Homo sapiens: one gene and its partners. The protein of the gene in region 2 purifies or fractionates together with the protein of the main gene of each other region. This does not show direct contact. Each region holds a gene or a part of one and is shown on either strand. Other genes may lie near its edges.

Region 1 (3,500 bases), on a different chromosome or scaffold from region 2:
TCCTTCCTGAATCTTTGAAGCTTCCATTATTGAAAGCTCTCCACAGCTCATCATGGAACAGACAAAGTGATCCAAATTATGAAAAAATACTGGTGGGGTGACTATTCTGACATTACTAAAATGGCTTATAATCAATGTTTGACTTGTCAAACTCATAATCCCAGAAAAACTAGAGGCAGTATATTTCCACCACCTGATGGACCATTTGAACATTTACAGATGGACTTCATTCAGTTACCACCCTCAATGGGGTATCAGTATGTTCTTGTAATAGTTTGCATGTTTTCTGGTTGGATAAAGGCCTTCCCATGTAGGAAAGCTGATGCTGTGACCATAGCTAAGAAATTATTAGAAAATGTTTTTCCTTTATGGGGGATCCCTCTAAAAGTCTCCAGTGATAGAGGAACTCATTTTACTGAGCAAGTTATAAAGCAGTTAAATAAGGTGTTACTGACACAGTTGCATTACCATTGTCCTTATTACCCTCAGTCTTCAGGAAAGCTTGAAAGAACAAATGGCATTTGAAAACTGAAACTGTCCAAGTTAACTGAATCAATTGAGTTGCCTTGGCCAAAGGTACTACCTTTTGGTTTTAATGGCAATCAGATTCAATCCTGTTGGAAAACATAAATTGACCCCTTATGAAATAGTCACTGGGAGGCCCATGTCCCTAATAATAGCATCTCATGCTTCTCCTGCTCTCTTAAACTCTGATATGACTAAATACTGCAAGGCTTTAATGTATTACGCCAAAGTATACTTCCACCAGGTAAAGGAAGCATTTCAAGATCCACCAACTGAGGACAATCAAACCCTCCATGGTCTGGAATTTGGAGACTGGGCCTTCCGGAAATGACATCAGAAGAAGATCACTCTTGAACCTCGTTGGATGGGACCATACCAAGTCCTTCTTACCACCCACAGTGCAGAGAAGCTTCAGGGCTTTGAACCATGGGTCCACATCTCACAATTCAAAAGGGCCCCCTCAGACTCCTGGTACTATATACCCGTTGGAGACTTTAAGGTAAAGCTGACCAGGGAAATCTCTTCCCAGAAGCAGACAGCATCCTGGTTACAGACAGCTTTCCCTAGATCACAGATCAAGACTTCTCTACCACCATGAAAGCCTTATGTGTTTTTCTGTTTTCCTTATTTTTTTCCCTAATCCTTTCCTTTTCCTTACATGAAAATCCATGGGACCATAATCAGTGGATGGCTTCAGCTCAAGCTTATGCTCTAGCACAAAACCAGGGTAACTGTTGGGTTTGTGGGCTAATGCCAAAAAATCAGGAAATGATTCCAAGGGTGCCAGTGCCCCTCCACGTTTCCCAATGAGTCACCCTGAAACCCCAAGGGAAGAATGGAAAGCTATTCTTGATACTCTAAACATCACTAGTACTTGCTTTCCTACACTCACTAAAAACAACACTCTTTTTCAACTGATAAAGTCGATCACACCAAATATAAAAAACAAATCCAAATGATGCCTACAAAACGTATATTGTGCTTGCAGGCATCACATACTCAAGATTTGGGAATTACTTATGTTAGTACAAGTGATTGCTTGTATATCCAGTAGGGTCTCTTTTTACTAGATGTGGTTATACACCCTTACAACACACTACAAAGGGGCCATAGAAAAGTAAATTTCCCACTGGATGTTATTCAGGAGCTACAGATTCATGGTCGAACAAACCTGAATGATCCCTGCTCAAATACAACTAGGTGGCCCCCTTTTCCAACCCCTGAGGGTCTCTATTGGGTCTGTGGAGAATCTGCATATTCTGTTCTGCCTCCTTGGTTGGTTTGGTTCTTGTTATCTGGCCTGGCCTGCTCCTGCCTTTCGAATTGCTTCCCCTGAAAATTCTCATGATAGCCCTTATACTTGGAGGCCAAAATGATCAATAACTGAAATTAGCACTAGCCTCGAAATAGACGAGGATAAGCTAGTTTCTACCGGGGAAAGATTCCACTGGGGTTCCTGGGGGCTCACTCTTGGTGGTAGTGAAGTACCATTTGTACGGAATTTAAAACTAATTTGTATATTGGGAAAATTCTTGGATTTGGTAGCCAATCAGACCTCCCAGGGTTTCAGATGGGTAGAAGCTACTCTCAGAAAGGCACATGACAACATACATATTCAACGAAAACACTTAATGGAAGATCATGCAGTCTTAGATCTTCTTTTTGCTCAAGCTGGAGGCCTATGTTTGGTGTTAAACAAAACTGAATTTTGTACTAATCCCTCCCCTGATTCTGTTACTACAAAAAGCTTAATTTAAAAGGTGGCTGATACTGCTGTTTCCTTAGACACTGCCACCAAGTACAATAAAGAAATCTCTCAAGAGAAAGGAACCCACGATATGTTTATAGGAGCAACTAACAGTTGGTTTGCAGGCATCCTAAGTGGTGAATGGCAAGCTTGGGTTTTCCAAGGGTTTCTAATCTTTATATCTCTTCTAGCAGGTTTTCAAGTTATTATGACTTGTATTAACAAGGTAACAATGAAAACGAGCACCTCTTTAAGTCAAGCTACTTTACAGCGAACTATGATCCTTAATCACTATCATACTCCAACTGAAGACTCTGACCAATCAGACCCCAATACTGCTGAACTGCTTATATTGTCTGAACCTTAACTTGGCTGATTTGGTTCAGTTCATTTCATAAGAACTTTTATTAAGGAGTACACCTTAGCATTTTGACGGTGTCCTCTTAACAGTCATAATAATAGTCCCCTTGGTGCACTGTATACTCTCAAGTCTTAAATGTTTTGTATGCAGCTGTACATTGACAGTTGAATGGTCTTACTCCAACTGGATCAGCAAGAACATAAAGAATCATTTAGCTGGTACAAAGTTGCAACTTGTGAATTCCCTATTAACACCAAAGAAGATGTGTGAGACTCCATACTGAAACTAAAGACGACTTGTGAGTTCCACACTGAGACCAAATAAGTCTTTATGATGGTGACAGAGAGTGGTGTCAACGCCTAAAGTTTTGGTCAATCTCTCTAAATTGAGGGGCTGACCAAAAGGGGGAATTGTTAAAGCGAACTAAATATGGCCCGAAGAGGACTCCGTACTTTTATATTTGAGTCCTTGTGGACGAACTGTAACCTAGCTCAAATAGGCAGACAAAATCGAAAACCTAACTTAGTAGTATGCATCTGTAATAACAGCTGAGTGTTGGCCAATCCCAGCGGCCATACTTCAACCACTCATAGACTGCTGAGTGTTCAAACTGCGTTCAAATAAGGCAAACGCCGAGCTGTAACCAATCTCACTGTTTCTATGTCTCAATTCTGATTCCTGTAGGTCACTTTACCTTTTCTGTCTATAAATTTGTTCTGACCACGAGGCACCCCTGGAGTCTCTCTGAATCTGCGGTGATTCTGGAGACTGCCCAATTTGTGGATCATTTTTTTTCTTTGCTCAATTAAACTCCATCAAATTTAACTTGTCTGAAGTTTTCTTTTAATTCTATGTTTTGCCCAAGGT
Region 2 (3,500 bases):
TTCATTCTGAAGGCTCATGTGTATATACTTTAAATAAATTGTAATTCCTTATCTCATGTTAATCAATCTGCCTCATGCCAGTGATTTTGTAGCAACCTTGAGAGGGCCAAGAGCCTATGGTCCCCATAGGGGTAACATTTAAAAATCTCTAACATCACAATCAGTGAATAGCAACAATTGAAGTGAATGGCACAGGTGATGAGAATCCCTCAGTGTTGGCACAGCATCATTCCTGTGAATTAATTAGGAGAGATACCAGTACTATTTTAGCTGCTAAAGATAACATATAGGATTTAAATAGAACAATGGATACTTTAGGAAATGTGAGGTAAACTTTAACTTTATCTCTTACCTCATCACCATCTTTATTTTTCTCTCCACCCCGTCCCCGTTTTCTGCCGCTGATGGAGAGAAAAATAAAGAGGGTGGCTGGGGAAGAGATAAACTTAAAGTTAACCTCACTTTGTCTGAATTATCGATTGTTCTCTTTAAATCCTAGTGACCTTTCAAAGGTGAGGTCAAGTTGATCTCTTCAAAAATTCTCCATAAGCATGACCGTTTTTACTGGTTATTATTAGTATAATTCATCTGAATCTTAACAGTTTGTGATTTCATCCAAGTAGACATTCTGCTATGTGGGTGTCCTATATGCTAATTGCAAAGGATGATGGAGTGGAATGGGAAATTCCAGAGAAAAATAATCCATGGTTGTTGCCTTCAATAAGTTTACAGTCACATGTGATAGCCATAAGTAACTAACCATAACGGATTTCAGAAACATTTCATGAAAGAGGTAACAAAGACATTTCTGTGGAAGCAGAAATAAAGCCTGCATAGAATGGAAAGATTGGAAGTCAATTTTTTAATAAGCAGTTTTGGGAATGGGCAGGATTTTGGAGAAGAAAAGATCGGAAAGGTTTCCAGGGATGGATAAATAACATCCAAGGTTTCCAAAGTATAAAAATGAATGATATATCTAAAGGAAAAATAATAATTCTATCCCACCTGGTGAATAGGATAACATGGTGGGGAGGGTGAAATGGGAGGTATGATTGAAGGAAGGTAGTGAAAGGGAAAAGAGACTATAAAGGTAGAAGTTACCGGGTCATGAAAGATTTTTAATGAAATATTTTTAATGCACTTCATGATGAATCATCAAAGGATTCTGTGAAGAGATGCGATATCATCATACTTGTGTTTTAGAAAGATCAGGCTGCTGGCCAGGTGTGGTGGCTCACACCTGTAAACCCAGCACATTGGGATGCCCAGGTGGGTGGATCGCTTGAGCTCAAGAGTTTAAGACCAGCCTCGGTAACATGGTGAAACCTCATCTCTACAAAAAAATATAAAACAAAAAAATTAGCTGGGTGCGGTGGCACGCCTATGTGGTCCCAGCCACTCAGGAGGCTGAGGTGGGAGGATCGCTTGAGCCGGGGAGACAGATGTTGCAGTGAGTTGAGATTGCACCACTACACTCCAGCCTGGGTGATAGAGCAAGACCCCATCTCAAAAATAAATAATACTTTAAAAATGAATACATAAAAAATAGAAAGGTCACGCTGGCAACCATGTGGAAGATGAATTGAAGAAATGGGACACAGGGAATCCAAATCACTTTGGGAGTATGTAGGAAGACCAACAGTTGAGGTTTGCCTGTGACTGAGGGTTTTTTGGGACATAGTATTTTCAGTGCTAAACCTGTGACAGTCCAAAGCAAAGGGAATAGTTGGTCACCCTATTAGATTAGAATTTAAAGTAAAAGTCAGATATGGAATTGAGCAATTTTGAAGACTGCTTGAGGAGTCAAAGATGATTTCATTTATAAAACATGAAATGATATAAAAAAGGTATCGCAGTTTTGCACTTTTCCAAAGCAACTTCATATGCAGCAACTAACAGCATTCACTTCTGCTGATAATCTGAATCCATTAACCTATTTCTTATTCCAGTATTTTTCAATTTTGTACTATCTGCCAACCCTCATCAATTCCTAACTCTTCAAATGGTTTTCTTTCTCTAACATAATGACTGAGCTTCACTACAAATTGCACTATACTAACTTGCACCATACATTTCCAGAAACCTTCAATATCTAAATGCTTCCATTTCTCCTAGTCTCACATAGCATCCTCCCTCATCTTATTTCCTCCTGTGTCTAACCCAGATTAAATAGTTGGCCAAATTATCCACTCTTACACAAGAATACACAACTTCTTTGTTCTCCATTCTCCTGCTACACCAGCCTGGCAAGGCCCTAATCGCAGGTTAAGTCCACAACAGGTTTTCTTTCTTACTATCCAAATGGCTCAATTATCCTGTTGAAATACTAGTGTGTATTTGAAATGGCACAAATGGAAATTAATGATCTCCAGTCTAAAATTATTTTCCTCTACCCTCTTTTTGCATGAACCTGATTAGTATCTTCTCCTATTCCCATGGTGGCTAATCAGCCCCTTTTCTATTCTGCTAAAGCTTCTTCCTCTCTCTCCTGCTCCCCATCCACCACTTTTCTCGGAAGACTATTTGTTTTAGCCCTCAGCTCAAAGAGTAAATTGAGATTATTAGGTGAGAAGAAATCAACTTCATCTATTGTCCTTTTCTAACACGCATAATTTTATTTATAGCAGCACTCTTCTTACTTCCCAACACAGCTGTCCTTCCTGCTGCTCAAGATGAATTATCACACTCTTCTAACCTCCCTCAGGATTCTCTTTCATTGATTGTTCCCTTTCACTCCTAGAAAATCATGGTTTTCTACACTCTCAGCTAGAGCTTTTTCATCAAGTCTCTCCAACTCCCAAAGTAATTTTCTTGTCTACGCACCTTATTCTAGCTCTTTGTTGCCTTCCTGCCCTTCTCTCCATAGTTGTTTACACCAGTTTTTTTCTTTTCCTCACTTTATATCCATTCTTTAATGCACTTCAAGGTGGCATACATGTCCCCACAACCTCACTTCAGTCAGTACTTCTGTGGCTTTGAATTACCCAGAAAGAGGTGAGAATAGAATTCCCAGTGCCTCCAATGCCAGCCTTACAGAAGTAATTACTCTTGGTACCTCTAGTTTGAAGTGCTCTGTCCAGGGTACATGCTTCCTATTCCAAAGGTCAGGACCATTAAAAGAGATGCCTTTTCACTTGAAAGAAGGGTATGTTGGTGAGTGCCAAATCCTGAAGGGAATGACCAGCATAGAGTTTTAACCTAATAAGAAAAGCAGAAAAATCAGCCACCATCTCTGAAATAACAGGATTCACTTACAAAGTGTGTCTCTAAATACTATACAGCCATAAAAAGAATGAGATCATTTCCTTTGCAGGGACATGGATGGAGTTGGAAGCCATTATCCTTAGCAATCTAATGCAGGAATGGAAAACCAAACACCACATGTTCTCACTTATAAGTGGGAGCTGAATGATGGGAACACATGGACACATGGTGAGAAACAAGAAACATTGGAGTCTGTTGGGAGCTGTTGGGTGAGAGAGAGCATCAGGAAGAATAGC
Region 3 (4,188 bases), on a different chromosome or scaffold from region 2:
CCCAGGAACATTTCACATTTCCATTGGCCAAGGAATGCTGGTGGGGGTAGCTGGAGGCCCCAGTTGGGAGGTCCTGTCCAGTGAGGTGGAACAGGATCAGGGGCCTGCTTACAGAAGCAGTCTGGCCATGATTTGGTAAAGCAGCTATGCTGTGCTGTGGGATCTCTTCTGTCCCTCGTCGGTTTGTACTCTCCAAAGCCCGCAGGCTGGAATGACTACGTTGCCTGAACGGGAAAGATGGCGGCCTGCCCCGTCTTTTCTCTCAGAGTTTTATCTTGTTTCGTGGAGCTTAATTTTTAGCCTGTTGATTTTACTGTCTTCATTAGACTTGTTGAGAAAGAATCTGTTCTCTTTTAGGTGAGATAAATGAGAATTCATTGTCTTCTGTAAATAAACCTGTTCATGTCTTGTTCTCTGGAAAGAAGTCTCTTTCAGCTATCTGACTTTGGTCACAATCATGTAGAGCAGCAGCCAGTCTACAATGACGTAATTGAATTTCCATTTCCAGTGTTTCCTCGTTGTGTCTTACATTGTCCAGTTCAGAACTGAGCATTTTATTCTCAGTTGTCAACATGCTAAGCTGTCCACTGTACTGAAATACTGTGCTTCCTCAATTTGTTTTAAGGTGTGCACTTTTATCCAACTCTCCTCAAGTCAGAGTACAGGTAAGCCCTGGCTGCCTCCAGCCACTCTCAGGGAGACCAAAAGCCTTCATACACCCCAAGTTGGGGTACAAAAGAGGGGGGCCACGAAGGCTGATCATTCAAAATAAAACAAAATTAAAAAGTATTAAGGCGAAGATTCAAAAAATTTTGCATTATGTAATTTGCACAAAAGCAATGCTATCACCTCCCCTGTGTGAACTAGGGAGAGGACTGGGCCATTCTCCTTAGAGAGAAGTGGGGTGGCTTTTAGCAGGGCAAGGGGCTTCCTGAAACAATGCGTCTCACAATATTTGGAATGACTATTGAAAAGAAGAACAAGGTACAATCAAAGTCCTTGGCCACATTGTAGAACTTTGGAGGAAGCTTCCTCCAACCGACTGCTGTCACCTTCACCATTCCGGTTTTTAAATCCTGAGTCAAGCCAATAAAAAACAAAACAAAAAATGAAACAAGAAAACAAATAAAGCCATGCCAATCTCATGTTGTTTTCTGAGAAGTTTGGTTTTGTCAAGAAAGGGTGTAACGCAACTAAGTCAGAGTCCACCTACAAGCATTTGCGGTGGACAATGGAGGGGCCTGACTCATCATACTCCTGCTTGCTGATCCACATCTGCTGGAAGGTGGACAGCGAGGCCAGGATGGAGCCACCGACCCACACGGAGTACTTGCGCTTGGGAGGAGCAATGATCCTGATCTTCATCATGCTAGGCGCCAGGGCAGCGATCTCCTTCTGCATTCTGTGGGCCATGCCAGGGTACATGGTGGTGCCGCCAGACAGCACTGTGTTGGTGTACAGGTCTTTGCGGATGTCCACATCAGACTTCATGATGGAGTTGAAGGTAGTTTCATGGATGCCACAGGATTCCATGCCCAGGAAGCAAGGCTGGAAGAGCGCCTCGGGGCAGCGGAACCGCTCGTTGCCGATGGTGATGACCTGGCCATCGGGCAGCTCGTAGCTCTTCTCTAGGGAGGAGCTGGAGGCCACCGTGGCCATCTCCTGCTCGAAGTCCAGGGCAACATAGCACAGCTTCTCTTTGATGTCACGCACGATTTCCCGCTCGGCCATGGTGGTGAACCTATAGCCATGCTCGGTGAGGATCTTCATGAGGTAGTCAGGCAGTTCCCGCCCAGCCAGGTCTAGGCGCAGGGTGGCATGGGGGAGGGCATTCCCCTCATAGATGGGCACAGTGTGGGTGACCCCGTCACCAGAGTCCATCACGATGCCAGTAGTACGGCCAGAGGTGTACAGGGACAGCACAGCCTGGATGGCCACGTACATGGCTGGGGTGTTGAAGGTCTCAAACATGATCTGGGTCATCTTCTCGCGGTTGGCCTTAGGGTTCAGGGTGGCCTCGGTCAGCAGGACGGGGTGCTCCTCGGGAGCCACACGCAGCTCGTTGTAGAAGGTGTGGTGCCAGATCTTCTCCATGTCATCCCAGTTGGTGATGATGCCGTGTTCCATGGGGTACTTCAGGGTCAGGATGCCTCTTTTGCTCTGGGCCTCCTTGCCCACATAGGACTCTTTCTGATGCATGCCCCCCATCATGCCCTGCTGCCTGGGGCGCCCCACGATGGAAGGGAAGACAGCCCGGGGGGCATCGTCGCCCGCAAAGCCGGCCTTGCACATGCCAGAGCCGTTGTCAATGACGAGCACAGCGGTATCATCATCCATGGTGAGCTCATTCAATTGTAGAGCCTTTAAAAGATTATCATTCCTTTTTTTCACACTTTCAATATCCTCCAAATATTTCTTTTCTCTTAGCTGGCTCTGATGTTTCATTGTGTCTAGCTCCAGTCTTAGCATGGCAATTTCTTCCCGCAACGTACTATTTTCATGCAAGATGTCTTTTTCTTTCTTACAACTAAGAGAAAGCTAAGTAAACAAAGAGAACTTTTAGTTAGCACTCAATAGATTGACATATCATGATTTCTTCTGAAATTCAAAAATAACATGTATTTGTATAATGAAAGAATCCCCATAGTGGATATTTAACTGGAAAAAAATTGGACAAAACTTCAAACCTAATAAGAGTGTAAATTCCTCCAGTGATTTATTTTTCATCGTCTTTAAATAAATATTTAAACTTTTAGGAATCTGCTCCTAAATTCCTAAAAGTTTAAATATTTATTTAAAGACGATGAAAAATAAATCACTAGAGGATTTTTAAGAATCCCAGAATTAAAAAAAGCCTTTTTTCTGAGTTACAAAAAACCCAGAGGCATAAAATATAAGATTAATAATTTGACTACATTTTTAAGATTAGGTTTACACTCTGATATCTAACCTATCAACCACACCATCCTAAGAGCCTTAGCTATGCATATATTTGGACAGAAGCAATTTCTCAAAGTTCTTTAAGTTTCTTTTACTTAAGAACGTTTTACCGATATTCTACATTTCTAATATTTCTATACTCAGTTATAAGAATTACATTTATTTATAACTGTCAAATAAGCACTGTACCCTTCTACACTGTACACATCTGTATCTAGGCATTGCTCTTCTACATATAATACTGAACTCATTTAAGATCGCGATTCTTAAAAGGAGAGGTCAAAAAATATACACAGATGCAGGATTTTCCCCAGGTCTGCTGATGCTACTTCTAGTGATCCTCCACAAAACCACACTTACTTCTGTGGTGTAAATATATAAATACAAAAGAAACCTTTTGTTTCAAAATATGAATGGTAAATAAGATACAACTTATAGAGATTTTCTTAGAAATCATGAGATTATTTGCCATTGCGGTAACTTTTATTTCCTCTTTATAATGTTTGAAACAGTAGTAATGGTGAAATAGGGGAAATATACTGAACTATTTCTCCAGAAAGAAAATACTTATCAATAAATTATTACTAAATGTGTATCATGGCATGTCATTCTTTTCAAACCTCTTTACATTGAAATGAGAAACTACTTGGAGCAAACTGTTCCTCTCTGCAAAAGTAAGGATAATGGTATCCACAATGTGGCCTCTGACCCAGCTATACATTTCCTACTTTCTTATCAGTAAAAATAATCAATTGACTTCTCTATTAACATTTTTTAAAAAACTAATGTCCAAAAACGAGAAAATCTGTTTTCAGTAGCAAAACTTATTTCTGATGTGGAAAGATCATCAATTCTTATGAAAAATATCAAATACTTCTCCTTTGGATTGAGGCCATTGTGCAGGTCACTACTCAACTGTTGCAGGCAAATGAAGGTGAATTAAGAACATGGCTTTATCCTATACGTACGTATATAGATATATGACAAAGGATATATAGAATATATACACACATATATATGACTTAAAAATCCTTTATATTTCCAAAATACAGTTCTTTAAAATATACACACATATAAAAACATTTGAAAATAACTAAAGAAAATACCTCAGAATTCATTTTTTCAACCACTTCTATCTGCTTTTCTTCATGAATCAGAATCTCATCGTGTAATATTCCAGTGTTCTGTTCTTCACAAAATTGCTTCTGAGTATCATTTTGTTCGTCACTAGAAGAAATTTTAATTTTC
Region 4 (3,500 bases), on a different chromosome or scaffold from region 2:
GGGGTGGACGGCAGCGCCGTGCAGCCCCAAGACAGGAAAATGAAGCAATGAAGCATTATGGATCTAAAGCCACCAACGTGCGCTTCCAGATGACACTTCCAGAAGCCTAGAAAGCTGTCTACCAGGAGGGCACAAGGGGGGCGCTGCACCACTGGGCAGAGTGCAGCGAGCGCTGCTTCAGGAGGGCATGCGGGGGCAGAGGAAGAACGCACCACTGGGCGGAGTGCAGCGAGTGCTGCTTGGCGGTTTTGTTGCTGATCCAGACGCTGCAGAGCTGCCGCTCCACGTGCTTGCAGTAGAACATGTGCCTGAAGAGCATCTGGTAGCGAGTGAGGGCTTTCCTGCAAGAGACGTGGCGGCACCTCAGGTGGGCCTCCGTGACCGGCGGCGTCGTGGACACGGCGTCTGTACTCCACAGTCCGCACCGTGGCCCCCGGACAGCCCGTGAATCTCTCGGACACTGAAGGCCGGGGAGAGCCGCCTTGGGTCCTCTGTGGGACGAGGTGGCCACCGCGTGGCACAGTTCTCGCTTCTGCCAAACCTGAGTGAAGATCTGGCAGGTGCCCGAGCAGCCGACCCGCACCTGTTGATGATGAGCGAAAGGGGCCACTTGACGATGTAGTCGAAAGAGAAGGCCTCCAGGCCGCTCAGCGCCAGCTCCGTGGGGTCGGCGTGCGCCATCGCCTTCTCCTGCTTGGTCTCGATGGCCAGGACGCGCAAGAGCTGAGTGATGAGGTCATGGGGCATCAGGTCGATCTTGGAGGGAAGGAAATGAAACAAAGCATCCAGTTTTAAGGAAAAGACCCGAAGTCGCATCCCGATCGCCATCCTCGCTCACAGACCCAGCGCTGACGTAAGGTTCCCTACATTCCGATTCTAAATATCAGAGGCTTTTCAAAAACCCAAACATCTACTGATAAATCAAATTCAAAACTGAACCACTTCCCATCAGAACAAAACAACAAAAATTCAGATGAATTACTTTGTAAATACCCACTGCTGCTGTGGGTGGTATAAGGGAAAAACCGCTAAGGACGGTGAAAGAAACGTGATTCCTTAGGACGAAAACCTTTGTACCATGATAAGCACCAGGCCCAGGTTGAAAAATGAAGCATATTTGACGAGGGACATAATAGTTATTATAAGCAAGTAATACTGTCCTCACGTTAATCACTCGAGTATTTGCTAAGTTCCAACCACCCGCAACAGAGTTCCTACAAAACCATCGCACAACGACAGGACAGGAAATGAAGGGCAGGGGATAAAGCAAGAAGAAACAAGCAGCGGACAGACGAAATCGTGACCATCACAAACGCAGAAATGAGCCCCTGACATCACTTGTCCATCAAATAGCCAAGGTGGGAGCTTTCGCAGGTGTGCAGACAGCAGCGTCCTGAGACTGGACTCCATCAACTCCAGCAAGGTCAGCCTAGTCATACAAGGGCCATGTATTGTGACCCAACAATTTCACTACCAGGAATTTTTCCTACGAAAATATTCCTGCTCCTAACAAGAGACCCCAAAATATCTGAATCAAGAATAGACAGAATGACAAGGAGAAAAGCAGTTCTTCAGTGACAGGGAGACTCGGTGCCCTACTTCTAACCACGGAGAGAACCGCCGGACAGACGATCAGTGAGGAAAGACACGGCCTCAACCCACCTGCAGAACACCACCCCAACAGCACCGAGGGCGCGTCCTCCTCCCGCGCGCACGGAACCGAGGGCACATCCTCCTCCCGCGCGCACGGAACACTCTCCAGGATGGATGTGGGGCCACTACACAAATCAATACATTTCACAAAACTGAAATCACAAAAAGTCTGTTCTCTAACAAGGAGATAAAGTTAGAAACAAGCAACAGAAGGAAAACCAGAAACTTCACAAACATGTGGAAGTTAAACATAAACCACCCACGGCTCCAACAAGAAATCAGAGGGAATCAGAAACACCTCCAGACAAACAGAAATTATGACGCTAGGGGATCAGCGAAGGCTGCACTCGGAGGGATGTTTACAGCTGTAAACTAACTTTTCAAATTAAGAAACTAGAAAAAAGAAGACCACACTGAACCCCTAAGCAGCAGACAGGAGTAACAAAGATGACAGAAGAGAGAAAACAGAAAAATACAGTCAACAAACCCAAGAGTTGGTTCTTTGAAAAGATAATGAAATCGACAAATTTCTAGCTACATCAGCTAAGACGAAAGAAGATTCAAATTACTAAAATCAGAAAAAGAAGGGATATAACTACTAATCTTACAGAAATAAAAAGCAGATACTAGAAACCCATGAACTGTGCACCAGACAAGATGCGAGACAGACAGCCGACCAAGAGGAAAGGGACTGAGCAGACCTGTGGCCAGCAAGGGGCCAAGTCCCCCTCAAAAGTCTCCAACAAAGACAAACCCAGGGCCCAAGAGCTCCCAGGCAAACCCTGCCAAACAGCCAAAGAATCAACACCCTCCTGGGGAGGCGCAGGTGAAGGATCGCTTGAGCCCAGGGGTTCAACCAGCCTGGGCAACACAGACCCCCGTCTCTATTAAAAATAGTAAAAAACAGATAAAACATATATATATTTTAAAAAACGGCTGGGCACGGTGGCTCATGCCTGTAATCCCAGCACTTTGGGAGGCCAAGGTGGGTGGATCACCTGAGGTCAAGAGTTCAAGACCAGCCTGGGAAACATGGTGAAACCCCATCTCTACTAAAAATACAAAAATTAGCTGGGCGTGGTGGCGCGCACCTGTAATCCCAGCTACTCGGGAGGCTGAGGTAGAGCATCACTTGAACCCAGGAGGTGGAGGCTGCAGTGAGCTGAGATCATGCCACTGCACTCCAGCCTGGGTGACAAGAGCAAAACTCCGTCTCAAAAAAAAAAACAAAAAACAACGACAACAAAAAGGCAAAAACAAAAAGAATTAACACCACTCCTGAAACCCTTTCAAAAGACCTGAAACCCTTTCAAAAGACAGATGGAGGGACACGTGAAAACAATTCCACAAGGCCAGCATGACCTGAAAGCCAGGCCCGGACGAGGGCACTGCAGGAAAACCCGAGACCCGCGCCCCTCCAGAGCACAGGCACAAAGACCCCCGATCCCGGCAAGCCGGCCCCGGTAGCCAAGTGAAGGAAACAGACCCTGCGGTCGCCTCACCGGGACGGGGAGTGGGGGACAGGGCTGGCCTCTGCTGTGCTCTCCTCCCAGCCCCTCCGAGGCCTCTGCCACAGGGGACAGCCCCCGGCACCCCCACCCACCTTGAGGTCGTCCTTGAAGGGGTCAGTGTTGGCCGTGCTCATGCGCAGCGCCAGCTCCAGGAGCGCTTCCAGGCGAGGGGGCGTGATGTCCTCCACCGGCTTCCGGAGCTCCTCCTCCGCGAGGTCCATGAAGTGCACGAAGAAGTCGCCCTGGTCCATGAGGAAGTAGCGCTTGATGGACCTGCGCCAGGGAGCAGGCGTGAGCAGGTGCCCACCCGCAGGTGCCCGCCACAGCCAGGGAGCA

The links. Proteins that work in one complex are often made in the same cells at the same time.
Region 1: the proteins of P2RY10 (region 2) and OPA1 purify together in Homo sapiens (affinity purification with mass spectrometry; one large-scale study listed by BioGRID and IntAct). This does not show direct contact.
Region 3: the proteins of P2RY10 (region 2) and POTEF purify together in Homo sapiens (affinity purification with mass spectrometry; one large-scale study listed by BioGRID and IntAct). This does not show direct contact.
Region 4: the proteins of P2RY10 (region 2) and TUBGCP2 purify together in Homo sapiens (affinity purification with mass spectrometry; one large-scale study listed by BioGRID and IntAct). This does not show direct contact.

Annotation. Positions count from the first base shown.
Region 1 is NC_000003.12:193,599,708-193,603,207, reverse strand, and holds part of OPA1 (dynamin-like GTPase OPA1, mitochondrial), read right to left. Parts: intron 1-3,500. UniProt on the Homo sapiens protein: Dynamin-related GTPase that is essential for normal mitochondrial morphology by mediating fusion of the mitochondrial inner membranes, regulating cristae morphology and maintaining respiratory chain function.
Region 2 is NC_000023.11:78,951,891-78,955,390, reverse strand, and holds part of P2RY10 (putative P2Y purinoceptor 10), read right to left. Parts: intron 3,199-3,500; 5' UTR 3,056-3,198; intron 1-3,055. UniProt on the Homo sapiens protein: Putative receptor for purines coupled to G-proteins.
Region 3 is NC_000002.12:130,073,035-130,077,222, forward strand, and holds the end of POTEF (POTE ankyrin domain family member F), read right to left. Parts: intron 4,168-4,188; coding exon 4,047-4,167; intron 2,539-4,046; coding exon 1,210-2,538; 3' UTR 501-1,209; downstream 1-500.
Region 4 is NC_000010.11:133,284,873-133,288,372, forward strand, and holds part of TUBGCP2 (gamma-tubulin complex component 2), read right to left. Parts: intron 3,438-3,500; coding exon 3,257-3,437; intron 757-3,256; coding exon 584-756; intron 342-583; coding exon 213-341; intron 1-212. UniProt on the Homo sapiens protein: Component of the gamma-tubulin ring complex (gTuRC) which mediates microtubule nucleation.